7 linked regions of the Homo sapiens genome follow. The protein of the gene in region 5 purifies or fractionates together with the protein of the main gene of each other region. This does not show direct contact. Each region holds a gene or a part of one and is shown on either strand. Other genes may lie near its edges.

Region 1 (4,312 bases), on a different chromosome or scaffold from region 5:
CTCAGCTCACTGCAACCTCTGCCTCCTGGGTTCAAGCGATTCTCCTGCCTCAGCCTCCCAAGTAGCTGGGATTACAGGTGCACGGCTCCATGCCCGGCTAATGTTTGTATTTTTAGTAGAGACAGGGTTTCACCATGTTGGCCAGGCTGGTCTCAAACTCCTGACCTCAGGTGATCCTCCCACCTCGGCCTCCCAAAGTGCACTGCACCCAGCCCTGATAAAGTTTATTTTTTTGCTAACATTTCAAACATACACACATGCAGGTAGACAGAATAGTGTTGTGAACCCCCTGAGCTGATTTATTTTCACCAGTTATCAACATTTCAGGTAAAGTCTGAAGGAGCTTACCATTATTTTATAGTCCCATCTGGCCCTTCAAGTATAGTTCACGTGAGAGTGACAGTGGACATTCTAGCAGGTCAGTGTGGTACCCTTTCAATTTCAGGTCCTCTAAGGAAGGGAATATGCGAGAGACTTTGGGATTTAGCACTGTGAAATGCTTTCTCTTGGCTTAAGGAGCTGTTGCTTTCTCTCCCCTGTTACGAATTGTGTTCCATATCTGAGTTCCCTTTTTGCCTGGCCTGCAGGGGAGCTCCCGTGTATCTGAAAATGCTTTAGGCACAGCAGTGGCTTTGACCCATGTGGTTAGTGCGTTGATCTCTCTCCTCCCTCTGGGCCTTACTTGTTTCAGTGTTCACATGGTTGGTAGTTTATTAAAGCCTTTGTGGAGGGCTGGGCTCAGTGGCTCATGCCTGTAATCCCAGCACTTTGGGAGGCCAAGGCAGGCGGATCATGAGGTCAGGAGATCGAGACCATCCTGGCTAACATGGTGAAACCCCGTCTCTACTAAAAAATACAAGAAATTAGCCGAGCGTGGTGGCGGGCGCCTGTAGTCCCAGCTACTCGGGAGGCTGAGGCAGGAGAATGGCGTGAACCCGGGAGGCGGAGCTTGCAGTGAGCCGAGATCTCGCCACTGCACTCCAGCCTGAGTGAAAGACTCTGTCTCAGATTAAAAAAAAAAAAGCCTTTGTGGTAGTTGCCTCTGGTCCTTTCTTTGAACAAGGCAGAGGAACCAACTGAGATTACAGCAGGCAGTGGGCAGAGCAGCAAAGGCTGGTGGGACACAGGCTCATGGGAAGGTGAAGAGCCTAGGCTGACTGGAACCCCGTGGGCTGAGGAGTGGGGGAGATTTGATTGGGAAAGGAGAGCAAGGGCAGAGGAGGAGTTTAGACTTCATTCTGGGGGTCACAAAGTTATCACTGAGGTGATAGCCCTCCTGAGGTGGGATACTACGAAGGGCCCTTCTCCCAGTGCTCCTGACATAAGCTAAAATTTTAGATTATAGGCTCAAAAACAGAGCAGCCCTGGGACTTCACCACCTTAGCAGCCCCTCCTGCCCAAGCTGCCACCTGAGCAGCAGGGGACACCGACTAAGAAGCCTTTGGTGTGTGAGTGCAGTTGAGCAAACATGCGCCCGCCTTGTGCTGGCCACCCACCCGGAGACCCCGGTCCTCATCCTGCGTTGCTCACAGCGGAGGGGGGAGGTGCCTCCGGAAACAGGAACTTAGGATGTGGTGTCATCGTGGTGGAAGCCAGGAGCACCCTGTGGGGACCCAGAGGAGGAAATGACCTGAACAAGCCTCTTGTTCAGAGGTCCTTCCCCAGGAAGCAGTGGCCACGCTGCAGCTGGAAACCAGAGGGCCTGGCCCCCGGGTGGGGAGCAGGCATTTGGGAGGGAGGCCAGTCTCCCATGCTGAGGCTTGGAGGTGGGAACGGGTGTGCCTGTTCTGGGAACTGACTGCGTCGTGCTGAGGACTTGATGTCTACATCTCACAGTATGTGGGAGCCTTGGGGTGGGGGCCGGCAGGGGGTGGTGTTGGAGAGGTGACGGCTAGGTCAGGCAGGGGTGGGGGACGTAGGCCAAGTGCGGGCGCTGCCCACCCAAAACAACGTGTGCAGTGGGCAGGTGAAGCCAGTAGGCGATGGTGGGGCCGGGGGTGAGCGGGTGGCACACGCCTGTCTTAAGGGGGCTGCGGCGAGGCCCCGGTGATGGCTGCTCCGGGCTTGCAGGTGATGTCGCCAGGGCTCTGTCACCTCAAGAGAAACTGGGACCCTCATCTCAGTATGAAAGTTCCTGGTTTTTAAGTGGTGGTAACTAATGAACATGGTTTAAAAATATCATACCAGCAAAACAAAAGCCATCTGTGGGTCATATTTAGCCAGTGCTTGCTGTGGCTCATGGGAACCCCTGAGGGATTTTAAGCTCAGGAAAATCATGGTCTGATCCGCATTTTGGAAAGGTCCTTTCAGGGCCTATGGAGAGCAAATAAGGCAGGTAGCAGTGAGGAAGGCTGGACCATGATGCCACGGTCCAGGCAGCAACATTGGGAGCATGGTGGCCCCGGCACTAGGGTAGGAGGTCCAAGAAGTTATCTGCAAAACAAGGAGCACTTCTGGAGGGCCCTAGGCACCTGCTTAGATATGGGGATGAGCAAGTGAGTGAGTGAGCCTGGTGCCCAGAGGCCTGGCAGGTCAGAGATGAGGTGGCTGAGGGCCCTGAGGGAAGAGAGGGGCTGTGTGACAGGGTTTGACGGGGCAGAGGTACCACCTCTGAAACCCTTCCTGCCAGATTGCGAAAGAAGCATGGGGGCTGTAAGAAGGCCAGAAGGGGCCGGGCGCGGTGGCTCACGCCTGTAATCCCAGCACTTTGGGAGGCCGAGGCGGGCGGATCACGAGGTCAGGAGATCGAGACCATCCCGGCTAAAACGGTGAAACCCTGTCTCTACTAAAAATACAAAAAATTAGCCGGGCGTAGTGGCGGGCGCCTGTAGTCCCAGCTACTTGGGAGGCTGAGGCAGGAGAATGGCGTGAACCCGGGAGGCGGAGCTTGCAGTGAGCCGAGATCCCGCCACTGCACTCCAGCCTGGGCGACAGAGCGAGACTCCGTCTCAAAAAAAAAAAAAAAAAAAAAAGAAGGCCAGAAGGCCGGGCACTGGTGGCTCATGACTGTAATCCATCCCAACACTTTGGGAGGCCAAGGCAGGAGGATCCCTTCAGCCCAGAAGTTTGAGACCAGCCTGGGCAACATAGGGAGACCCCATCTCTACCAAAAAATTAAAATTAGCCGGGCATGGTGGTGCACACCTGTAGTCCCAGCTACTCGGGAGGCTGAGGTGGGAGGATTGCTTGAGCCCAGGAGGCAGAGGCTGCAGTGAGCCGTGATTGTACCACTGCTCCCCAGCCTGGGTGGTAGGGCGAGAACCTGTCTTAAAAACAAAATCAATAAATAAAATACAGTAAAAAAGAAGGCCAAAAGCCCCTGTGGGGGGTAGGTGCACCAGACACTGTCCCTTTGGTTTCTAGGGTGACCATCGGGATGAGGAGGAAGAGACCCACATGAAGAAGTCAGAGTCGGAGGTGGAGGTGAGAGCTGGGGGCACCAGCCAGGTGAGGCAGACAGGGCTATCTCAGCTTGCCTGGCCCAGCCCCAACCTTTTCCTCGTGCCCTCAGGAGGCAGCAGCTATTATTGCCCAGCGGCCTGACAACCCAAGGGAGTTCTTCAAGCAGCAGGAAAGAGTCGCATCGGCCTCTGCGGGCAGCTGTGATGTACCCTCGCCCTTCAACCATCGACCAGGTAGTCCTAGGCCCCACCCCCCGTCCGGCCCCACTCCTCAGGTTGCGGCCCTGAGCCTCTCTGGGACTCTCTCAGAAGGGAGGCCTTGCCCAAGCAACCCTTGGAGAAGGCGAGACCCTTCATCCAGCGTGCATCCGCCCACCACTTCCCAGGTGGCAGGACCCCAAGAAGGGCCAGGGATGGTGGTGAAGTCGCTTGTGGCTGAACAGTGGGGAGTGCTAGGGCCTGTGGGGCAGCTCTGGCATGGGCTGAGGCACAGCGCTGGCCACGGGGAGCAGCTCGGCTGGGGTGAATTAGGTCTGGCCTGGAAGGCCGGAATGCATGCGTGCTGGGCTCTTGCCCCGGGCCTGAGGGAGCCTCCCGGAGCTTGCACCCAGGTGTCCCCGTTCCGCTTCTCAGTGTGCTGCTTCCGCCTCTCCTGAAGCTCTTCCCTGCCCTGTCTGCTGGTCTGAGTGTGCTTGCCCCATGCTGGGGTCCCGCCACAGGCCGTCCCTGCTGTACTGCTCCCAGGCTGGCTGTGTGTCTGGGGCTGGTGTGAGGCTGCGGCTGGCTTGGCTGATTGTGCCCCTGGCTGAAGGCAGCTTGGACATCCAGGGCCAGGCCCTGGGGGCGGGAGAGGCCTCGGGCAGGGGTGGGGGAGACTGACCCTCTCTTGTCCTCTGTCTCTTTCTCTGTCT
Region 2 (4,312 bases), on a different chromosome or scaffold from region 5:
AGGAATGATGGAGATACTGAGATTTGTCCTGGTTCCCTCAAGGCAGCTAATGATGGTGACCCTGTGTGTTGAAAGGGCAGAGGTGCCTGGGAAGTATAGAGTTAGTCCCAATATAGAGCTTACCCTTTTCCCATTGGGGAGTGGCAAACTTAATCTTAGTGCAGAGGCCTCCCTTTGACCCCTGTTGGTGGAGTTAAGGACAGCTGGGGAAGCCATCTCTATGTATCCAATTATTATTATTATTATTTTTTTTTTTTTTGAGACAGAGTCTCGCTCTGTCACCAGGCTGGAGTGCAGTGATGTGATCTCCACTCACTGCAACCTCCACCTACCAGGTTCAAATGATTCTCCTGCCTCAGCCTCTGGAGTAGTTGGGACTACATGCGCGTGCCACCATGCCCCACTAATTTTTGTAGTTTTAGTAGAGATGGGGTTTCACCATGTTGGCCAGGATGGCCTCGATCTCTTGACCTTGTGATCCGCCCGCCTCAGCTTCCCAAAGTGCTGGGATTACAGGCGTGAGCCACCGTGCCCAGCCCCAATTATTTTTACATACAGGATGTTTTCTAAGTAAGAAAATTTAACCTATGTCTAAAAGTAAACAACAAAAAACTGCTCATGGAATCTTCCATTTTAAGAAATAATCTCTTGAATATACCCTATCAGTTAACTGTTTATATTTTTGTTTTATTTTTTTTAGAGATGAGGTCTCACTGTGTTGCCCAGGTCGGTCTCAAACTCCTGGGCTCATGTGATCCTCATGCCTCAGCCTCCCAAGTAGCCTGATACATAGGTACATGCCACTATGCCTGGCTAGAATTTTCCATTTTAAATAAAAGTAACAAAAAATACCCCAAAGATGTACTGTTCCATAAGCAGACACAAATTTAAAATATGGCTATTTTCTACTGGGACACCTGGTCCTGGGGCTTGCTCTTTTCGATGTTTGTTCGTAGCTTATCTTTAGCACCTAGGACGATGTGTGTCTCCTATTAGGCACTCAAGAAAATAGGTTTTGAATGAATGTGGCTGATACGATAAGGGTCTGCTTTGTTCTATGATGTGACCATAGAATAAGCATCGGCTTCATTTGAGAGATTGGATCTTGCTGATGAACCTTTATTTTCATTTCAGATTAGAAAACTGAAGCTTCAGTTAGAGGAGGAACGACAGAAATGCTCCAGGAATGATGGCACAGTGGGTGACCTGGCAGGACTGCAGAATGGCTCAGACTTGCAGTTCATCGAAATGCAGAGTAGGTACCAGGGGACAGGCCAGTCCCAGTCTGTATATAGACTGTGTCCCAGGGGTGGGTTTGTCAGCAGGTTGCTGGTATCTTGTAATACACTTTTCTTTTTTTTTTTTTTTTGAGATGGGAGTCTCACTCTGTCACCCAGGTCAGAGTGCAGTGGTGCAATCTCCGTTCACTGCAGCCTCTGCCTCCTGGGTTCAAGTAATTCTCCTGCCTCAGCCTCCTGAGTAGCTGGGATTATAGGCGCCTGCCACCATGCCCGGCTAGTTTTTTATGTTTTTAGCAGAGACAGAGTTTCACCATAGTTACCAGGCTGGTCTCGAACTCCTGGCCTCAGGTGATCTGCCCACCTCAGCCTCCCAGAGTGCTGGGATTACAGGCGTGAGCCACCGCGCCTGGCCGTTAATATGCTTTTCTTAAGAAGAGCTATGCTGCAAAAATTGGTTAGTCCTTGGCTAGTCCAGAAAAACAGTCCTAGTCAGCAATATAGCTGAATAGAGGCTCCACTAGCCTGTGTGCTTCAGGGGATAATGAGGTTTATTGCTCTTACCCTTTCTGGATAAAGTGATTTCTAGGAACTTTTTGCACACAGTGAAATGCCTTTTGACAACCTGGCACTGTCCTTTTCCACATCCATTTGTCATCTTTAAGCTCCCATACAGCAAGCACCCTTCCCCATTAAAGTTTTTTCTCTGGAATTTGTCTTGGATAATTGGACGAATCTATTTGGAACTACTTCACACTAAATTGAGTAGTTTCAGAATTTTCCTAGAAGTATTTTGTTAATCCAAGTTTATCTTTATTAGATGAAATTTAAAATAAGTCCACAAAATAAAGTCTATTCTATTCATTTTACCCGAATTATTCCAGTTTTTCTCATTTTTCTACTTCTGACCTCATAATAAAATGATCACTGCAGTCACACTAATTCCCATAGTAGGAAGATTTCAGCAGGAATTTGTAGTTAGCCTTTGTTAGTGATTATGTGTAATTCTCGGACAGAGGAGATTTTCATTTTTCCAATAAGAATAGTGACTTTTCTGATAACTAATATTAAAATCTTGTTTATTCCATGGACTTTTCATCTAAACCTTCTGAGATAGGCTGCCAAGAAAAGACATGTTGGGGCCAGGCGTGGTGGCCCGCACCCATAATCCCAGCATTTGGAGAGGCTGAGGTGGTGGATTGCTTGAGCTCAGAAGTTTGAGACCAGCCTGGGCAATGTGGTGAAAACCCGTCTCTTCAAAAAAAAAAAAAAGAGAAAAGACTTTTTGGGTTAAGGCTTATTAATACTAACTTTTGATATTGGTATTATCTTTTCTGTTGGACATCAGTTAGGACACTTGTGACATTTCCTGGTGAATATTTTGTTCAAGAATGTCATTTTGGTGTTGGCGGTAGATGAGAACAGGGACATGGGAAAAGGCAGGCTGACTAGTTAGGAAGCTACTACAGTGGTGAGCCTGAACCAGTTCAGTAGCTGTCAGCAGTCTTAGAGAGAGGGTAGGGAATAGATCTGAGAGATTGTCCTTAAGCAGCAAATTTAAAAGGAAACAGATTTAGGGGGAATGGGCTGGCATTTATGTGTGAATACTTCCTAGAGTAGGTAGGTTGTTGTATAGCTGGTATTTGCAGAAGGTAAAGTACCCAGGCAGGAGGTGTAGAACAAAGTGAGCTTTGCAGGACTGTGGGAAAGCTGGCAAAGACAAAAGCAAGCAGCTTCCCTGGACCAGAAGGCCAGGAGTGGAGCAACTCTTGGTTCTGGATGGTGCCTTGCCTATTATGAGAGTGTTTTGGAATGGGATTTCAAAACACACATGAAGTTACTGAGATAAGAGACTTAAACTTTTGAAAACAGGAAGGGAAAGGTGGTTTGGAGAGTGAGAAGGAAGAAGTACATTTGGATAATCAATAGATTGCTGAGGATAACAATTTAAAAATCAGATCCTGAAGCTTGTTTTAGGGCTCAGAAATAGGAATACTTCTCTTTCACTACCAGATATGGCTTTTGGGGAGATGGTAACCCTGTTCCTTTTAAGGTGACAGTAATTGTCCAATTAGAAAAACCTCTCACCACTTTAGGAGGCTGAGGTGGGTGGATCACGAGGTCAGGAGATCGAGACCATCCTGGCTAACATGGTGAAACCCCGTCTCTACTAAAAATACAAAAATTTAGCCAGGCATGGTGGCGGGTGCCTGTAGTCCCAGCTACTCAGGAGGCTGAGGCAGGAGAATGGCGTGAACCTGGGTGATGGAGCTTGCAGTGAGCCGAGATCGCGCCACTGCACTCTAGCCTGGGCGACAGAGCGAGACTCCATCTCAAAAAAAAAAAAAGAAAAACCTCTCACATTGAAGACTGTATAAGTAATTGTAACCTTGGTCATGTGGAAATGTAGAAAAGTTCTTAAGTTAGATAATCTGAATATTTCCTGTGGTATGTTAGATTTGGTTTATCTTTTGCAAATCTTATTACTGTAATCATGCCAGAGACTGATTTTTGCTAAACTTGGATTCTTGGAGGGATTTTAAAAGTCCCCTGCCATCATTTCTAAACTTTTCATTTTAAGTGATTTACTTCCTAGGTCAGATGTTCATCTAGTAACTTATAGCTCTACCCATAACACATTATCACATTACTGAACAGCATTTATTCCAACATATATTTATTTAGGCATACACTGTGTGCACTTGGCTAGGTACATAGGTAGATTTAGGAAGGCCAAGACAGGGCCCCTCTTCTTGCTTACACATACGATGTTTAAAAAGCATGACAAATGTCATAAAAATGCAAATAAAATACAGCAAGGGAAGGACTTATAATTAAGGGGAGTCATGAAAGAGGTGAAAATTGAGCTTGGCCTTGAAGCAAGTCAGAGGTGGGAGAAAAGGACCCTTACAGTATTGGACAGCAGAAGCAAAACCTGGGAGATGGGAAGGCATGGGGCCGCGTTCAGGGAACTAGAGGGCCCAGTCCCGTGGGCAGGGAGGCTCCACAAGGTTACACACAGGGTTGGTAGGGGCTGCTGCTGAATTGGCAGGGCTCCTTTCTCAAGCCCTGCT
Region 3 (4,312 bases), on a different chromosome or scaffold from region 5:
CTCCTTCCACCTCCTCCTCTCCTATCACCTGGCAACCACTCTGAAGCATTGAGAGAGGAGATGTTGCCTGCTGCATTTCCTTTATTTTACTCTGAAGTCTGGAGATTTCTGTGCTCATCTCGGCTCTTTCTCGATCTGCTGTCTCACAGGTCGCTTTGTGAATGTTCTCCATGGCTAGAAGCTTGGACATCATTTCCTGCCTTTCCTGGTCATGTTCCATTTCTAGTCTTTCCAGCCGCTGGCTGGCCAGCTGCTCCGAAGCCCCTGCCTGGCACAGGACCTCCTCACGCTCCCTCAGTTCCCTTTTGTGACTGCTCTTCAGCTCAAGTATCTGGTCAGACAGCAGGCTTTGCTGGGTTTCAGATACATTTCTTAGGTCTTCCAGGTCTTGGAGTAGCTGCTGTCTCTCGACGACCATGCTGTTCAAATGTTCTTTGTATGTTTTCTCCAGCATCTCTCTCTCCTGGGTCAGGACCAGAGAAGTTGTTTTCTCTCTCTTAAGAGTCTCTTTCAGCAGCTCCTGGGCTTCCGCACACTCCTGGGTGAGCTCGTCCTTCTCAAATTCCCACTGGGATTTCTCCTCACGCTGCTGTTCCTGGAGGTCCTTCAGCTCTTGGCGGTAGCGCCCCTCCAGGCTTTGCAGAGCGCTTTCACACCTCTCAGTGACTTTCTGACAATCAGACTGAAACTGGGCTTCTATTTGAGAGGTTCTTCTATTACACTCTGTTTCCATTTTTTCCCTAAATATAGTCAACATACAGCATTATTGAAACTGCCGCCAACTCCAGAAGCAAACAAAAACCATTTTCCCATGCACTGAGAAAGCTGCTGAGCAAACAACTGAAATACTCCCTAAAAATGCTCTTAACTTACTCCTATGTGATTCATTTATACTGGAAAGGGATCTCATTTCTGAAAGCTAAGACTGGCAGCCATAATTCATTTAAAAGACTTACCTCTCTCTGGAGTTAGGGGGAAATCTTAGAAACTAATTTCTCTGGCACACTCCCGGATGTATTTGTTTATGGATTTTTAAACCAAAGACAAATGACCAAATGTATATTAATCTAATTCCTCACTTGGGAAATATATACCATTCCTTCATTTTAATTAAGCATGCGTTATAGGATATCAGTCACATAAATGACACATATGAACAAATTCATTCTGCTTTTGCTTCTTACTTAACGAAGTAGCACCAAGTCAATCAGCGTGTGACGAAACAAAGCCCTCAAATAAACCTGGGATTTCACATGAGGAATGTAAGCATGGAGTGCTGTTTCTTAACTCTGGGAGGAAATGTAACCTTGCCTGGAATCCAGTTTATTAATAGCTTTTCTCAGAAAGCAACAGGATTGAACTAGGAAGGAACCACTTTTGGGATAATCTTATCCTCCTCTTGAGCCTTATAAGGTAGAATAAATCTTAATACGAGGAATACTTTCCTCTTTTACAAACATAACAAAATAAAAACAGTTCCAATCATCCCAAGGTAGGTTCACATCAAAATAATGGCAAAAACAGTAAAAAAATATTTAAAAGAGTCTACTCAATCAATGGGCTATTATGCCTTCTGACTTCTTCAAGTCTCTTAAGCGACTGGCACTTTTTTTTTTTTTTTGAGACGGAGTCTCGCTCTGTCGCCCAGGCTGGAGTGCAGTAGCGCGATCTCGGCTCACTGCAAGCTCCGCCTCCCGGGTTCACGCCATTCTCCTGCCTCAGCCTCCAGAGTAGCTGGGACTACAGGCGCCCGCCACCACGCCCGGCTAATTTTTTGTATTTTTAGTAGAGACGGGGTTTCACCATGTTAGCCAGGTCTCGATCTCCTGACCTCGTGATCCGCCCACCTCGGCCTCCCAGAGTGCTGGGATTACAGGCGTGAGCCACCGCGCCCAGCCACAACTGGCACTTCTAATGCCCCGAGGGATGGTGCCCCAGGTAGCTTCATTTCCCTTCACTTTCTTACCTTCCCTCCTGAAGCTCCCTTTGGTGCTTTTCCAAGAGCTCTTTTCTTAACTCCTCTTTCTCAAGAGTGTGTTTCTCCACCAGGCTTGTCAGCTGCTCCTGGTGAAACTGCTCTAGTTCCTGAGTCAAGCCTCTCACCTTCTCTTCTGTCCAGGCGCTACTCTGAAGGCCTTCCCTCTCCCGCTCAAAGCTTGCTTGAGCCTGTGTCAGTCTAGCCTTGAGCTCCATCTCATGTTGCAGCCTCAGCTTCTCCTGCAGGTGAGTCTTTTCCTCCTCAAGCTTCACTTGCAGTTGTTTTTTCTCCTCCTCATGCCTGCAAGTGGCCTCATGATGTGCCTCCTTGAGCACTGCTGCTTGCCCCTGAAGTTCAGCAATTTCATTTTTAAGGTCACTTATTTGTTTTTCTAAGGTGTGCGTTTCGTTCTCATGCCTTTGCTTCATGTTCTCCTGTGCCTTCTTGCAGCTGACCACGGTTTCGTCCAGCTGCTTTTCATAATGGCGCACCTGAAGGCACAGAGTGACACCACCACAAGATTACTCAGCTCAAGGTCACTGAAAGTGAAGTGATGGAGCAGCAATTGCTTTTTTTTTTTTTTTTTTTTTCCCTACAAGACATTTCTCATTTCTCTATCTTGTTTTAAAGTAACTGAATTCAACACTTTAAGCAAGATACTTAAGTCAGGCATGGTTTACATATCTCTTTTAAGTGGCTGAATTTTATTAGTGTCTGAACAACCTTATTAAGAACTGAGCAGCCATTACACATAGCTACCCTCTGTCTTCCCATGCATCCTTTCCAACTGTAAACTTGAGTCTTGGAACATATATATTTTTTGAGACAGGTTCTCACTCTGTCACCCAAGCTGAAGTGCAGTGGCGTAATTATGGCTCACTGAAATCTCCATCTCCTGGGCTCAAGCAATCCTCCCACCTCAGCCTCCTGAGTAGTTGGGACTAAAGGCACACACCACCGTGCCCTAATTTTTTTTTCTTGGTAGAGACGGGGTCTCACCATGTTGCCCAGACTGGTCTTGAACTCCTAGGCTCAAGTGGTCTGCCCACCTCGACCTCCCAAAATGTTGAGATTACAGGCATGAGCCACTGTACCCTGCTGGGTCTTAAAATACTTAATTAAATTCAAATATTAATTGAACACCTATCAGGTACTTGCAGGCCTCGGAATACAACGCTGGGTAAGATATGGTCCCTGCTATCCAGGAGAAACCAGTCTAGACATGGATATGACAACTATAAGTACAGTAGGAGGCAGAAAATAAAAGGTATACAAAAAAGAGCTACAATGTAACCCAGGGACTCAAAGGAGGGAAAAAAATCACATTTTAGTTGGAGAAATTCAAGAATGGCTTCATGCAAGAGGCAGCATTAAATATAAATCCTGAAGGGTAAGTAGACTTTCGAGAGGCAGAAAGAAACTAATATCAGCATAGTTTGTAACAGCACAAGCAAAAGAGGACAGAGTGTGATGGACAACTAGGAACTACCCAATTTAGCTGGAGGATAAGGTAACTCATAAGAACGGTCAGTTGAAGTCTGGACTGGAAACGTCAGTTGAAGTCTCATGGTGAAGAGTTTAGAGGCCAAGGTTCAGAACTTGTACCTAATTTAGTAGGCAATGAAACATCAAAGGGCTTTTTTTGGTTTCACTGAGATGTTTTTAAAAAAGAAATTGGGAGATAATATAATGGGTTTCAAGCTTCAAGTTCCATGATTGCCAGGGCTGAAGATATTACATTTTGGAGAAACTCTCCAGAAAAAAGGGGCCTTGCTGTCAGCCTACAAAACCATCCTGAGGATGTGGGTTCCCAACATAGAATGTGCTGCTCTATGAGAAAAAAGAATTGGAAATGCCCTACACACATAAGCCTGTCAGAGCCAAAAGAAATTAGAGAAGTGGATTGGTGGGAAGGACTTACTTTATCTTCGAGCTCCAGTCTGAGGCAACATATGTCCCTGTGATGTTGTTCTTTCATCTGTTCAATGACCAGCTCTGCCTCAATGCTCATATTCAATGGATTGCATTCTTCAGAACCGAGCCCTGAAAACACATGGGACTCATTGATCCTGCAGCAGGTTCTTTCAATAACACAGTGTGGCATCTGAGGAGGGACATCCAGTTTAACTAAGGAATGATTTTCAGCCTGAATTACCAGAGATGTGAACTAATAGGAAATAACAGAGGCCAAGAGAAGTCTTTTCTCTTTTCAAGCGTTAGGGCAAACAAGAAGAAATGAAGGTGAACAGATTCTTTCATGTACAGGCAGTGGAAAAAACCTTAATAGAATCCATCTCTTAGAATAGTAGGTGGTGGGGCGGCGGGGGTGGAAAT
Region 4 (3,500 bases), on a different chromosome or scaffold from region 5:
TTGTACATAAATGAAATCATACTATATATACTATTGTGGAACCTGATTTATAATTAAAAATATAAAGTATTAGATTTTTTCCAGTAACTATAAATCCATATTATCATTTTTAATGGTTGTATAATAATCCATTGTATCCATACCCACTAAGTAAGGAAAAGATGATGGTTATTTGAGGATAACCAGTTAGTCTAGAAATTCTCTTATTAAAATTCGAATGTTTGAGTATCTCTATTAGTAAGTAGTAGAGTAAGTCAGGTTTTTTGTGGTTTCTTTTCTCTTCTCAGTGTTAGTATAGACACCATTGCTTGAATAGCAGCTGTTGTCTCTCCTTCCCCCTAGGAAGTTTGGAGTAACTGTCCTCTAGCTTCAAAGCAAACGACCTTCCTATTTAGTGGTGACATGGGAGAGCAGTAGCAGCCCTAATTAAACCTTACAGCCCTGGACAGTGCTCACAGTGTGCAATTTTGAGGATTCTCTGTGTGGTACAATATGTAAATGACTCTTAAGAGGCTTACAGGGAATAGCAAATGGATGCAAAATTTTATTAAGATCTTTCTGCTCCATTGGCAAATAAATTAGAAATGCTTTTGGTTGCTTTATTACAGTAATACCCTATGCAATTTTGCTTACTAATCAGCAGAGATTATCTCTAACATAATAATTACTCAATAACTAATGTTGTTTATCTAGTATACTACATTTTGGGAGACAGTTACTAGATTATGAATATCTTAGCTGCCAAATACACTTGGACATTAATTTATTCTAGGGACTTAGCTTCATGAGAATGTTTCAATTGCATAGAAATAATCTATCTGTTCTGTTTTTAAAGAAAATCTTCTTTCACAGAAAGAGCTATCTGTTTTTATGTTGACAGTGTAAACTATATCTAATTTATTCTTGTATTGACAGTTACACTTTTTTTTTGCTTTTTTATGCTTTAATGTTCTTCATTAATAAGTATTTGGAAATATACATGAAATATACCAAGATAAACAGGCTGTATCTTGTTATACATACCAAAGGCTAGCCTAACCCATGATACTTTCATGGCAGGTTTTTGAGATGGATATTTCTAAGCAGTTGCATGCCTATGAGGTGGAATATCATGTGCTACAGGATGAGCTTCAGGAATCTTCATATTCCTGTGAGGATAGTGAAACTTTGGAGAAGCTGGAGAGGGCCAATAGCCAACTGAAAAGACAAAACATGGACCTCCTAGAAAAATTACAGGTAAAGAAATAAAGATTTGAGCAAATAAGTACTTCAATGCCTCCTGCATGCACAGAACTACCTCAGGAATGAAAGGGATATGTGCGTGGAATGAACCATTGCTAACCAAGAGCCCATGTATCAGACTGTCCAAGTGCTCTGGGGCTACAAATGACATGTTAAATTAAACATTACTTGGAAAAAAATGCACCCTCACAAAATAGCTAAATGGCAGTTCAAAGTGGAATCTGCTTAAATACCTGTTGCATGTTATAGATATTTGGTTAAATTAAAGGGAGGAGGAATTGAATGTAGGAAATTGATGAAGTTGTGAAGGACCTGGGCTTGAGCTGGAATCTGGAGGGTTGGTGGAAGAAATGAGTGAGGAGGGTCTTTAAGTCAGGCTGAGTAGGAGGGTGGCATCAATCAGAAGGACATGGCAGAGCAGCAAAGTTAGCCTAGTGTCAATTTAAGATAGAGGTTGGGGAGAGGTAGGGTAAATATGATAGAGGCAGAATCGTAAGTGACTTTCAGTGTCAAGCCAAAGAACATGGCTTTAATCCTGTCAAGAGGGAAATCTCTCAAAGTTTTTGGGCCATGCTGTAGAAAGATCAATCTGGGAACCTTGACGAGGACAGATTGAGATGGGAGAGAAGGTAAGGAGGCCTGCTAAAAGTCACTTGTGAAAATCTGTTGCGGATGATGAGAGTTGTCTAGACTAAAATGGAAATTGGAAGAGAGGGAGACATGTCTAGGTAAATTGAATCCCATGCAAATGTTACATGTAATATTAATACATCATTCCTGCCATCAGGGAGTTCACAATTATTTGAGAATATAAAATACTATATATCTGTCTCTAAGCGCACACTTATACATGCAATAAGAAATTTATTATAAAGTCATATTCGGTATTTGCAACTTGTATGATGTGTGCTATGTAGCCATGCCCTGAGGGGAGGGGCTTAAGAGTGATCACAGGATGGGGGCTAGCAGGTGACCCTTCTGAAGTCTTCGGGGAGATGACTTCAGGGGAGTTTCAGTGTCTAATGGCTCCTCGGTTTCCACTTACTCCTCCTCTCCATTTCCCCAACACTGCACCTGGCTACAAACTGGAAAACACTAAAACTCTGCTTCTATATGGTGAGTCCCCTGTCAAGACCAGTCAAGAGAGACAGGTTAGAAATGAGGGATCTCTAAAGTAGTTGCTTCCCAAGAATGGGAACACTAAACTTCCTTCGCTTTGTCTTACATTGGCTCTGGCTCATAGAAAATGTAAATCTTTTTTTCTATTCAAAAAAGGGCAACATACTCTATTTTCAAAAAGAAAACTAAATGGTTAGTATATTGTCCATTTTTAGTTGGATAGGTCAATGGCGATTAATTATTTGCCCCTTATTAGGGAAGGTGGGTTTGTACCTGTTTTATAATGATTCGTCTGAACTGTTGTAGACTTTTTCACTGACAGTTCAGTGTAGTCATCATCAGTTACTTGGCCACCCCTCACATCTATAAATACTGATGAAAGCCCAAGTGTATGTTTAGAGAACGCCGTATTTCAGTCAGAGAAGGAAAATCTCTTTTAGCACTGCAATAGTGTCAGGAATCTCCTGTTTCTCCTTCAGCCAGGCCAGATCCCACTCACTCAGGGGAACACCAGTGGGTGTAGAATAAGGATTCCTACTGTTGGTGAGGGGGGTGATTTAGTATTGAATTATTCGTGTGTTCAGTGAGAAGAGATGAAGCATGGTAGTTCCATAGTTACATCTTTGTGAAACCTAATAAATCATCGTTTCCTGTAGGTTTTCAGAGTATTTGCTTCACATAATATTTTATTAAGTAATTTGAAGTAATTGGTTAATATGTGTAAGGACTGTCTCCTACTATAATGAATCATTTGATTTGGAGGATTTTTTCCCCCCCAAACAGGTAGCTCATACTAAAATCCAGGCCTTGGAATCAAACCTGGAAAATCTTTTGACGAGAGAGACCAAAATGAAGTCTTTAATCCGGACCCTGGAACAAGAAAAAATGGCTTATCAAAAGACAGTGGAGCAACTCCGGAAGCTGCTGCCCGCGGATGCTCTAGTCAATTGTGACCTGTTGCTGAGAGACCTAAACTGCAACCCTAACAACAAAGCCAAGATAGGAAATAAGCCATAATTGAAGAGGCACGGCCTCAGCAGAAAGTGCTCCTTAGAATACTACAGAGAGGAAGAGCCTGCATGTCGCTGGCCCAAGGCTGGACCCTGAAGCTGATGGAACCACCTAATACTGGTGCTGAG
Region 5 (4,101 bases):
CATTCCCCACCCACAGCTTCTGTAATGACAGTTTTACTCCCTGCTTCTATGAGGTCAATTGTTTTAGATTCCACATATAATTTGTCTTTTTGTGGCTGGCTTATTTCACTTAGTATAATGTTCTCCAATTCCACTCATGTGGTTGCAAATGAACAAATTTCCTTTTTTTTTTTTTTTTTTTTAAAGAAAAGGCTGAATCGTACTCCATTGTGCATATATCCCCCAGTTTCTTTATCCATTCTTGTTGATAGACACTTAGGTTGATTCCTTATTTTGGGTATTGTGAATGATGCTGCAATGAACATGGAGTGAAACATCTTTTCAACTGATTTTAATATTTTGGGTAAATATCCAGAAGTGGGACTGCTGGATCCCAAATCAGTTTCATCATAGTCCCCCAAACCTATCTCAGAAAAGGCAGCCAGGTACGGTGGCTCACACCTGTAATCCCAGCACTTTGGGAGGCCGAGGCAGGCGGATCACCTGAGGTCAGGAGTTTGAGACCAGCCTGGCCAACATGGTGAAACCCTGTCTCTACTAAAAATACAAAAAATTAGCCGGGCATGGTGGCAGGCACCTGTAATCCCAGCTCCTTGGGAGGCTGAGGCAGGAGGATCGCTTGAACCCGGGAGGCAGAAATTGCAGTGAGCCAAGACCACACCATTGCACTTCAGTGTGGGCAACAAGAAAACTCCATCAAAAAAAAAAGAAGAAGAAAAAAAGAAAAGGCTACTCCTTTCCTCACAGCCACCCAAGCCAGAAATCTGGGCCTGTTCCTAGATGCTGCCTCCACCCCAGCCAGCCAGTCACCTCCTTGCCAATCCCAGTGTCCTGCCGTGTATGTTGAGCCCTCGTCACAGTTATCTCCTCCAACATCCTCAGGCCCCCAGCTCCTCCAGGGCAGGCACCCCTGGCACTCATCCCAAGTCTCCTTCCGAAGCTTGCCTTGTCACCCCTCCACTTAGAACCCTCACTTGCCTCCCATTGCTCTCAGTCAGGCCCCTTGAAATGACTCCCAAGTCTCTTAATAATAGCTGACTCTTACATGGCACTTACTGTGTGTTAGAGACTGTTCTGAATACTTCCCATCTCACTAGCTCATGTAGTCCTCCCCACAACCAGGTGAGACAGGTGCTATTGTTATCCACACTTTACAAGAAGGAAACAGAAGTCTAGGGAAGTAGGTAATTAACATTACCCACAATCCGTGGGCAGGACCGGGATTTGAATTGGCAATGTGGCTCCAGTGCCTGGGTGCTCCACATTGGGAGATGGTCCCATCAGGAGGTCGTCTCTTGACATCTCCAACAAGCCATCCCTTTGCCATGTTACTACCATTCCAGGTAGCCTGAGTGCCCCCAAGTGACCAAGGAAAAGCTTACCCTTAGAGGGTCTTTACTCCCAATGCCCCCCACCTTCCCATCCTCTACCTTTTTGTTGTTTAAAATTCAGCTGACCTGTTAGTTGCCACCTGGGAAGGTCTGACCACTTCATTCTTTATGCCTCTCATACCTCAGAGAGCTGCCAGGGCATCTCTAATACTTCATATTTCTCAAACAGTAGTTCTCAAACATTGTATATCTTGGTTCCTGTTATACTGTGTCTTTACTTCTGATTCTTGTGCTTGGCACACAGCACTCAGTACATGCTGCCGAATATTTAAATGAATAGAAAGTGCTTTCCAAAAACATGATGGAAATGTTCAAATTTGGCAAGAAGTGGCAGAGGAGTTCAAGCAGCAGATGGAGGTTGGTCCGGACGACTGGAGAGCCCTTCTGGCATTCACAATAAAAGGAGTCTCTGGCTCTTGCAATAAGCAGTGAAGAGTTTTTTAAAGAAAGTAAAGACCAGACAGAATTGAAGGAGGATATTGGGAGACCCAGCTTTTACTCCCAGTTTTGTGACTTATTCGTAACTTGGAATAAGTTACTTCCCTCTCCTGGTCTCAACTTCCTTCATCATTAAAAAGGGAAAAAAATAATACCTGAATAAATGGATGCCTTTCCCTTCTCTCCATCCAGTCCCTGAAAAAGCCAGTGCCAGGGGGCCGGGTGGGGTGGCTCACGCCTGTAATCCCAGCACTTTGGGAAGCCGAGGCAGGCAGATCATGAGGTCAGGAGATCAAGACCATCCTGGCCAACATGGTGAAACACTGTCTCTACTAAAAATACAAAAAATTAGCTGGGCATGGCAGTGCATGCCTGTAGTCCCAGCTACTTGGGAGGCTGAGGCAGGACAATTGCTTGAACTCGGGAGGCGGAGACTGCAGTGAGCCAAGATCGGGCCACTGCACTCCAGCCTGGCAACAGAGCAAGACTCCGTCTCAAAAAAAAAAAAAAAAAATAGGCAAGCCAGTGCCAGGGGAACCATGCACACACACACACAGATCCGGCCCAGTGGACACAATGAGGGCAAGTAATGGAAAATAACCCCCCCACCAAGCCATAGGGTCCTTTCTGTTCCCTCAACCATGGGCCAGGGACTTGGATTTCAGTCCTGGCTCTGCTGCCAGCTCTCAGGGACTGGGGCTCTTTTCTTCTGCAGGGAGAAGGAGCTAATCCTCCCTGTGAGAATCAGATGCGATATGGATATGGAAACCCTACCCACACAAGGCTCAAGTCTACTGAGGGAGGCACTGGACTGAGGCTCAAGATGAGTCAAAAGTCTTGGTTCTAGCTGGGTGCGGTGGCTCATGCCTGTAATCCCAGCACTTTGAGAGGCTGAGGCGTGGGGGATCACTTGAGGTCAGGAATTCGAGACCAGCCTAGCCAACATGGTGAACCCCCATCTCTACTAAAAACACAAAAATTAGCCGGGTGTGGCAGCGGGCACCTGTAATGCTAGCTACTCAGGAGGCTGAAGCAGGAGAATTGCTTGAACCTGGGAGGCGAGGTTGCAGTGGGCCAAGATTGCGCCACTGCACTCCAGTCTGTGTGACAGAGCGAAACTCCATCTCAAAAAAAAAAAAAAAAAAAAAAGGCTTGGTCCTGTCTGGTACTAGCTTTATTGCTTTAAGCAAGAAATATACCCTCTCTGCCATACTTTCCTCATCCATAAAATGGGAATGGTAACTAACATTCCAGCAGCGTTGGAGGGGCTCCGATGAGGCAATGAGGATGGCCCTGGTGGGCATGCCTGCACAGCTACTATGGAGATGCTTAAAAGTCTGGTTCATGTAAACTCTTTGGTCACGTTGAGCAAACCTCTTGTGCTCTTTGGGTTTTGGTTTTTGTCCCCTCACATCTACCCCCAAGAAGTTGGACATTCTGATCATCTAAGGAACTGGGCTGGCCCCACCTCCCTTGTGGGTCTGCTTTGTATGGCCAGTGTCATGCACAAGCTGATTTGGTTTTTGTTGCAGCTCGTATTCATCGATCTGGTGGCTGCAGGTCTACCGCCTCAGCTTGGGAACCTGAAGACATCTAAGTATAGACGGACTTTTTTTCCCTCCACCATAGCTTCCTGTCTCTGCCAACACCAGCAGGCCTCTCGACTGCCACCTACTGGCTCTACAGACTTCTTTGACCTTTCTCTTGTGGCTCATAGAGCTTGCTGCTTGGTCTTATCTGCAGACACTACAATTAATTTCAAAACACTCTCCCTTGTTACAACAAACAGAGCCCCTCCTGCCCCTCCCTGCATCCTCATCATCCTTTAAGCTAACGTCTCCAGCCTGCAACCTCCTGGCTAGTGCTTTCCTCTTCATGGCATTTAACTACTTTGTCACTTGAACAGTGTTGAGCATAACTGTCTTGCCCCCGGGGAAAATGGCAAGGTTAAACATAAGGGGATACAGATACTGCAGGGTAATCTTTCGGGTGGAAACTCTCGTTTATATAGGCAGGAGGTAGGCCAGGAGCTCCCAGACATAGCTGGGGGAAATGTTTCCACCTGGTTAAGACCCTAATCTCATTAAGAAGACTGACTAAACTTTTAACTCTTATCTGAACACCGGAGTAAAGATCTTCAACTGGAGCTTCTGTAAGCAAAGAAAATAGCCGACTTATAACGTGGGACTGTGTGGTCAGCCACTTAGCAGATATCTATGAATGAATCTCCACTACCACAGACCCTCATCAATGAACACTGACAGACTGGAGG
Region 6 (4,312 bases), on a different chromosome or scaffold from region 5:
ATAGAAGAAATTCTGCTGCAGAGCTGAACATAGAGCTCAAATTTTAATTAATTCCTTCTAGCTTTCAGTAATATGGACACCTAGGCTCTCAAATTAGGGATTTTCCTTTCTTGAAATTCATTGTTTGAGGTTGCAAACAAGCAACCTCAGTGCTTGTTTACTTAATGCAATTGATTGATTTGGCCTATATGAAAAGGACTACCTTGTATGCATTGATGAGAAGTGTTTGAGCCTGGTCATTTTAATTGCAAATATTTTATAATCCATGTCTTTATAAGTGTATTTTTCTAACTCTGCATCCTTCAATGGGAGATCTTTATCTTTGCATCCACTGCTCACTTTTTTCCAGGTCTTAGGGGAAAAGCCAGAGCTTCCAGATGGAGGTGATGATGATGACATTATAGCAGACATAAGTAACAGGAAAATGGCTAAACTATACATGGTGAGTTCACTGTAACCAAATTTATTGTTTCAACAGTACTGGATGTAGCTAGGGAGGCCTGTATTGGGCGGGATTCCCGTTGCTGCAGTTGAGAACTCTCCTCATTGCTCTCCAAGAGCAATGTGTAGATAGAATCAGTTCTTTGCTCTTGTATGTTTTTTTAATTAAGTTTTAATACTTTTTGTTATTTTTATGAAAAACAACAAATATGTGAACTTATTGCTGTGACTTCATAAAATTATATATTGTTGCTGTACTAGTTTGCAACGATCTTTTGATATATAATACTCAATACAATGTTTCCTTTATGGAGTAAAAATATTTTATCAGCTTTTTCTTATAAATTCTTGATAAGAATGTAAAGTCTTCACCCTATTTAAAACATTGTCTTTAGCCATAATGAAGGAGTTCTTTGTTACAGGAGGGCTGAGCTACCAAATGAAACAGCTGGAGGGAAACAGGGTAAAAACAGTTCTGTTCCAGGCATTAACCTACCTACTTCCATATCAGCTCTATAGCACATGATTAGGAGCATGACTTTGCACAGGACATAACCACTCTGGGTCTAAGTATTCTTATGCACACACAACAAAGAAAGTAGGTTCCTTCCAACTCTATAGTTTTTTTTATTCTTTGTTTGTTTGTTTTTTCTGTTGAGGGTAACAAAAACTGCAAGACACTCCAGTTAAGGAGGTTGCTACAGTGGTATTCTTCCAGTGTTCCCTCCCCTTGCAACTTTCTAAGCGTGTGATTTGGAGCAGATCGTAAATCTCCATGCAGAATTTAGTAGTTTTCTCATCTGTAACAGAAAGAAACTATATTTGCTGCTCTTTAAGGGATTTTTGGCTCCGAAACTCTGTGATTTTACATGAAGACCAAATTAATAACTTGTTTAGCGTAATTTCCTTTTCATAATGAATAAGTGGATTTTTTTTCTTCTAGATGCAAAAGGAAATATGGTTACCATTTCTGCTAAATACTGGTAATTTTAATATGAGCCATACAGAAAGTGTTAGCTAAATATTTTGTGACTGCTTTTAAAAATTACTATTTCTAAAACTCATTTTCAACAGCCTAACAGATATCTTTTATTTCACATCATCAACCAAAACTGTTCTCCCTCCTGGACAGCATTATGAACTAAAGAAGTATTTTTAAATGGGAAAATATTCATCCTGAGTCATAGCTTCCTCTAGTGGAGCTATGCTGTATTACATGGATATAAAGTATAAAGTTCCTTTGAAAATAATTCGGGTTTCTTAACAAGGCTGGCAAGCAAAATCACCTGGGGCATTTTCAAAACTACAGAATTCAGACTCCACCCTGGTCCTGCAAAACTCCACTAATCTAGGGAGGGCTCTGGAATCTGTATAATAGGTAACTAAACTGTAGCATACAAGCTGGCCATTGAAAACCAGTAAATCCTAACCTGCACATGAATATCACTTTCAATTTTGTAAGACCACTTAAAAATTTGTTTTAATAGTCTGTAGTCATTTCTAAATGTGACAGAAGAAATTTACTTTGATAATTTATACAAAGTTTACTTAAATTGCAGGACCTATGTTGAAAAAATCTTTGTGCATAAACTATATCAATATCCTCCTTAACAAAGCGACTGGTATATGGTAGACAGTAAATGTTGACTGAGTGATTGTTTAAACTTCATCTTGTGTGTATGTAATGATTTTAAGATTATTACCTACTTGAAAAGATTACTCTAAAATGTACAAGAAATAATCATGGAAAGTTAATTACATGATGCTTAGTACATAAGAGCATCTGAATAGACCTCAGCCATTATTATTATCACTATTCTTTTCTGATGTTTTAGGCACAGTGTCAAAACTTAACTTTTTATTTGTAGTTCCTTTACCCCAAAGGACTTTCAAAAAAATTAGAGTATAATTAGTCTTGTGGATTCTTTTCATTTTCTTTGAAACAGTTTTATTGAGATATAATTTATACACCATAAAATTCTTGCATTTAAAGTGTACAATTCAATGCTTTTTATTTGATGACATTTACCGAGTTGTACAACCATTACCATAATCTAATTATAGAACATCCTTATCATCCCCAAATGAAAACATGGAGGTCATGGTTTTTATATTAGGTTTCAGATGCAAGTGGCTCCATGAGAGTGACTGTGGTGGCAGAAGAAAACCCCTTCTCAATGGCAATGCTGCTGTCTGAAGAATGCTTTATTTTGGACCACGGGGCTGCCAAACAAATTTTCGTATGGAAAGGTAAAAAATTCCATTGACGATGCTGTATTTCAGATTTATAGATATTTCCTCTATAAGGGTAAATAAAATATATTTTTTGATTTTAAAAAAAAGCCCACCTTTTAATTAAGACATGATCTATAAATGTCTCACATAAAATGCAGCCATTTTCCTCCTACCAACATCATATACCAGGGATTATGGAGTTAAAAAAAAAGCATTTGGGCAATATAAAAAGAATTGTTTTACAAATAACGTTTTTTCCTGTATTGTTAAATACACTTAATATACCAGGAAATTTTTGCTATTCTTTTTTTTTTTTTTTTTTTTCCGTCGCCCAGGCTGGAGTGCAGCCCGCCACCACGCCCAGCTAATTTTTTTGTATTTTTTGTGGAGATGGGCTTTCACCGTGTTAGCCAGGATGGTCTCGATCTCTTGACCTCATGATCCACCTGCCTTGGCTTCCCAAAGTGCTAGGATTACAGGCGTGAGCCACCGCACCCGGCCAATTTTGCTATTCTTTCACTGCTGTATTTAACTTCAATTATAATCATGTTTATTATGGTACACAAGTATTTCTTAATCATAGAATGTCTTCCTTCTCTGAAGTTCTTTCTCTTTAATTTACCTTGTATTTTAGGTAAAGATGCTAATCCCCAAGAGAGGAAGGCTGCAATGAAGACAGCTGAAGAATTTCTACAGCAAATGAATTATTCCAAGAATACCCAAGTATGTGTGAAACTGAACTGGCTAGAAAAAAATAGAAAACATTGGAGCTCATGACATCTCCACGAAACTCATGAAAAAGTTTGGGTCAAAGTAACGTCTGTATGTGAAGTGATTCTCCACCTGCCTGTCTGCTGCAATCTGGTGTCCCTCTTCTTTATCTGCGTGGGGGTTAGAATTTTTTAGAAACTGCACATCAGACTTTCCATAGAGCTGCCCATTCACTTCCTCCACAGCCTTTAATTCAAGATAGTAAACCACAGTAGGTTTAGCTAAGAGCACTTAAGAGTTATTATTCCTTAGAGCAAGTTGTGCAGACTTGGCCTGAAACCCAGATGATATTTGTCTTCATCGAAATCAATTTAGACCCTGGCTAGTTACTCCTTTCCTTTCCGAATCTCTCAGCCTCATCTACTCTCCTCATTTTTATGTCCCTGCACAAGGAACACAATGAGATCATTTCTTCCAGGTCACAGAGCTCTTGTGAACCTTATGTAGAAAGACAAACTTATTTTACTGCAGGGGTAACATATTAAAGAACTTGATTCTTCTCTCAAATATTCAAATTCAGCGGCAATTACTTTAGTTGTGAGAAAAAGCAATTTTGGATTATATGAGCTTGATAGCTAAACCAGGATAATTTTCCATTTCCTTACTTTTGTCTCCACTGCCAGATTCATATTTTCCCTTAATTTCTTATTTTCCTGTTTACTATTATTATTATTTTAAATTTCAGATTCAAGTTCTTCCAGAAGGAGGTGAAACACCAATCTTCAAACAGTTTTTTAAGGACTGGAGAGATAAAGATCAGAGTGATGGCTTCGGGAAAGTTTATGTCACAGAGAAAGTGGCTCAAATAAAACAAATTCCCTTTGATGCCTCAAAATTACACAGTTCTCCGCAGATGGCAGCCCAG
Region 7 (3,024 bases), on a different chromosome or scaffold from region 5:
GGGTATGGACCTGGAGTCTGCTGGCAAGGGGTGGAGGGGAGGGTGTTGGGGCTAAGTTAGGCCCTTGGTGCCTACACTGAGCCACTCTTGCCCTGCGCCCAGGATGTATCGTGTGTATGGGAAAAAGAACATCAAGTTGGAGCCTGTGCCCCTCAAGGGGACCTCTCTGGACCCAAGGTGAGCCCCAACAATGTGAGGTGGGGGTGCTTCATCCTCAGCCTCCTCCCCACCAGTGGGGGCAGGTGTGGGCCTCTTAGAAGAGGAGGCCCTCTAGCAATTCCTGCCCACGAGCTTGGCGGGGGGTCCCTGGGGCTTACCCAGAAACCCCATAGTGAGGGATTTTTTTTGGTGGGGTCAGGAGCATGGGGTGACCATTGCCCCATGCACCATCACAGCTCCTTCCTGCCCCTTCTTGTCCAGGTTTGTTTTCCTGCTGGACCGAGGGCTAGACATCTACGTATGGCGGGGGGCCCAGGCCACACTGAGCAGCACCACCAAGGCCAGGTACAAGGACACCGTGGGGTCTTTTGTGTGAAGGAAAGGGGTGTGAGCCTCGCTGATGACTTTGCATCCTGCTCTCAGGCTCTTTGCAGAGAAAATTAACAAGAATGAGCGGAAAGGGAAGGCTGAGATCACACTGCTGGTGCAGGGCCAGGAGCTCCCAGAGTTCTGGGAGGCACTGGGTGGGGAGCCCTCTGAGATCAAGAAGCACGTGCCTGAAGACTTCTGGCCGCCGCAGCCCAAGCTGTACAAGGTGAGCCCTGCTGCTGAGGCCCACCTTGGCCTCCCAAGTTCACCCACCGACTGGGGGAATGGACTACACACCGATGTAGTTGGCTTTGGGCTCCATCTCGACTTTGGTGGGGAGAGGGTGCCACCTTCTGGACAAGGAACAGTATGAGCAAAGGTCTGGAGGCTGCTTTTGAGAAGTAGCCTCACGGAGTCTTTCCAGGATGGTGGGGCCGTAGGGGAGACAGAAGCACCTAGTGCCAGGGCTGGGAACCTTGGCTCAATTATCTAGATTCTTGTGAACAGGAAAGGGACACGTTAATTAGAAATGGCATGAAGGGCCTGGAGAGGGCAGGCAGGGAAAACTCCATTTAAAAGCCCTTCTGAAAGGATATCCCTAAAAAGACCTTGAAGGGGAGGGGGAAACAGAAGCAGTCAGTGAGCCACGCTGCAGGGCAGGGCTGGTTCCAGAGCAGAGGGCTGTGTGGGTGAGGTTCCTGTCTCCAGATCCCTTCCCTGCCATGCTCATCCTTCCTGCCAGGTGGGCCTGGGCTTGGGCTACCTGGAGCTGCCACAGATCAACTACAAGCTCTCCGTGGAACATAAGCAGCGTCCCAAGGTGGAGCTGATGCCAAGAATGCGGCTGGTAAGAGATGCAGGAGGAGGGCGTGGGGCCAGATCCCTCCCCGTTGGCTGGGCTTTGACCTCCAGACTCCCGGTCCGCAGCTGCAGAGTCTGCTGGACACGCGCTGCGTGTACATTCTGGACTGTTGGTCCGACGTGTTCATCTGGCTCGGCCGCAAGTCCCCGCGCCTGGTGCGCGCTGCCGCCCTCAAGCTGGGTCAGGAGCTGTGCGGGATGCTGCACCGGCCACGCCATGCCACGGTCAGCCGCAGCCTCGAGGGCACCGAGGCGCAGGTGCGCTTGCAGCTTCGGAGGCCCCTCCCCAGGATCCTTCGCACCCTGACATGCCCTGACCCCTGTGGCTTCACTACCTCCCTACAGAGCTGGGCCCAAACCCACCTCCTCTTTGCTGACTCTGCCCAGGCCCCGCCCCCTCTGCAAGCTGCCCCTCCTATTCCTACCTCCGTGTCCGAGGCCCCGCCTCCCAAGCCCCGCCCTAGATCTCCCTTGGGTCCCGCCTCAAGCCTCGGGCTACTTCCTCCAACTCTAATCATGCCGCACCCCTCATGGTTAGTTGATGGCCTCCCTGGCAGGTGTTCAAGGCCAAGTTCAAGAATTGGGACGATGTGTTGACGGTGGACTACACACGCAATGCGGAGGCCGTGCTGCAGAGCCCGGGTCTCTCCGGGAAGGTGAAACGCGACGCCGAGAAGAAAGACCAGATGAAGGCTGACCTCACTGCGCTTTTCCTGCCGCGGCAGCCGCCCATGTCGCTGGCCGAGGTGGGGGCAGGGCCGGGACCGGGGCGCGGGGGGGGGGGTGGGGGGCAGGCCGAGGGCGGGGCCTATGCGCAGAGCGCGCTCAGACCTGCCGCGGGGCGGGTCCCTCTCACCTGCAGGCGGAGCAGCTGATGGAGGAGTGGAACGAAGACCTAGACGGCATGGAGGGTTTCGTGCTGGAGGGCAAGAAGTTTGCGCGGCTGCCGGAAGAGGAGTTTGGCCACTTCTACACGCAGGACTGCTACGTCTTCCTCTGCAGGTACCACCTCAGCACTCCCTTCCCCAAGTCCCTCCCCTGGTGCTGGGGGCTCGAGCCCCTGCTCACAACCTTCCAACCCGGCAGGTACTGGGTGCCTGTGGAGTACGAGGAGGAGGAAAAGAAGGAAGACAAGGAGGAGAAGGCCGAGGGCAAAGAAGGCGAGGAAGCAACCGCTGAGGCAGAGGAGAAGCAGCCAGAGGAGGACTTCCAGTGCATCGTGTACTTCTGGCAGGGCCGTGAAGCCTCCAATATGGGCTGGCTCACCTTCACCTTCAGCCTGCAAAAGAAGTTCGAGAGCCTCTTCCCTGGGAAGCTGGAGGTGTGCCTGGCAGCCCCGCGAGCCCGAGGCCAGGCGGAGGGGTGTGGTGGGGCTCAGACCCAGCGAAGGTTAGGCTCCCGAGGGGCAGGTGGGGGTCCAGGGAGCTGCCCCTAACACTTCCACATCCCCAGGTGGTACGCATGACGCAGCAGCAGGAGAACCCCAAGTTCCTGTCCCATTTCAAGAGGAAGTTCATCATCCACCGGGGCAAGAGGAAGGCGGTCCAGGGCGCCCAACAGCCCAGCCTCTACCAGATCCGCACCAACGGCAGCGCCCTCTGCACCCGGTGCCTGGCTGGGGGAGGACGCAGTGGC

What was found.
Region 1: the proteins of TMOD1 (region 5) and DBN1 purify together in Homo sapiens (co-immunoprecipitation; 3 studies listed by BioGRID and IntAct, with this or other methods). This does not show direct contact.
Region 2: the proteins of TMOD1 (region 5) and LRRFIP2 purify together in Homo sapiens (affinity purification with mass spectrometry; 4 studies listed by BioGRID and IntAct, with this or other methods). This does not show direct contact.
Region 3: the proteins of TMOD1 (region 5) and NIN purify together in Homo sapiens (affinity purification with mass spectrometry; 3 studies listed by BioGRID and IntAct, with this or other methods). This does not show direct contact.
Region 4: the proteins of TMOD1 (region 5) and TBC1D4 purify together in Homo sapiens (affinity purification with mass spectrometry; 3 studies listed by BioGRID and IntAct, with this or other methods). This does not show direct contact.
Region 6: the proteins of TMOD1 (region 5) and SCIN purify together in Homo sapiens (affinity purification with mass spectrometry; 4 studies listed by BioGRID and IntAct, with this or other methods). This does not show direct contact.
Region 7: the proteins of TMOD1 (region 5) and FLII purify together in Homo sapiens (affinity purification with mass spectrometry; 4 studies listed by BioGRID and IntAct, with this or other methods). This does not show direct contact.

What each region holds. Positions count from the first base shown.
Region 1 is NC_000005.10:177,459,755-177,464,066, reverse strand, and holds part of DBN1 (drebrin), read left to right. Parts: intron 1-1,640; exon of another isoform or gene 1,641-1,835; intron 1,836-3,363; coding exon 3,364-3,423; intron 3,424-3,511; coding exon 3,512-3,635; intron 3,636-4,312. UniProt on the Homo sapiens protein: Actin cytoskeleton-organizing protein that plays a role in the formation of cell projections. Required for actin polymerization at immunological synapses (IS) and for the recruitment of the chemokine receptor CXCR4 to IS.
Region 2 is NC_000003.12:37,055,733-37,060,044, reverse strand, and holds part of LRRFIP2 (leucine-rich repeat flightless-interacting protein 2), read left to right. Parts: intron 1-1,134; coding exon 1,135-1,255; intron 1,256-4,312. UniProt on the Homo sapiens protein: May function as activator of the canonical Wnt signaling pathway, in association with DVL3, upstream of CTNNB1/beta-catenin.
Region 3 is NC_000014.9:50,757,891-50,762,202, forward strand, and holds part of NIN (ninein), read right to left. Parts: intron 4,022-4,312; coding exon 3,900-4,021; intron 2,470-3,899; coding exon 1,967-2,469; intron 741-1,966; coding exon 1-740. UniProt on the Homo sapiens protein: Centrosomal protein required in the positioning and anchorage of the microtubule minus-end in epithelial cells. May also act as a centrosome maturation factor.
Region 4 is NC_000013.11:75,286,670-75,290,169, reverse strand, and holds part of TBC1D4 (TBC1 domain family member 4), read left to right. Parts: intron 1-1,059; coding exon 1,060-1,236; intron 1,237-3,144; coding exon 3,145-3,378; 3' UTR 3,379-3,500.
Region 5 is NC_000009.12:97,595,372-97,599,472, forward strand, and holds part of TMOD1 (tropomodulin-1), read left to right. Parts: intron 1-4,101. UniProt on the Homo sapiens protein: Blocks the elongation and depolymerization of the actin filaments at the pointed end. The Tmod/TM complex contributes to the formation of the short actin protofilament, which in turn defines the geometry of the membrane skeleton.
Region 6 is NC_000007.14:12,622,452-12,626,763, forward strand, and holds part of SCIN (scinderin), read left to right. Parts: intron 1-349; coding exon 350-442; intron 443-2,558; coding exon 2,559-2,691; intron 2,692-3,310; coding exon 3,311-3,399; intron 3,400-4,132; coding exon 4,133-4,312. UniProt on the Homo sapiens protein: Ca(2+)-dependent actin filament-severing protein that has a regulatory function in exocytosis by affecting the organization of the microfilament network underneath the plasma membrane.
Region 7 is NC_000017.11:18,246,280-18,249,303, reverse strand, and holds part of FLII (protein flightless-1 homolog), read left to right. Parts: intron 1-102; coding exon 103-177; intron 178-420; coding exon 421-504; intron 505-582; coding exon 583-754; intron 755-1,270; coding exon 1,271-1,375; intron 1,376-1,455; coding exon 1,456-1,647; intron 1,648-1,946; coding exon 1,947-2,135; intron 2,136-2,251; coding exon 2,252-2,391; intron 2,392-2,475; coding exon 2,476-2,710; intron 2,711-2,841; coding exon 2,842-2,996; intron 2,997-3,024. UniProt on the Homo sapiens protein: Is a regulator of actin polymerization, required for proper myofibril organization and regulation of the length of sarcomeric thin filaments. It also plays a role in the assembly of cardiomyocyte cell adhesion complexes.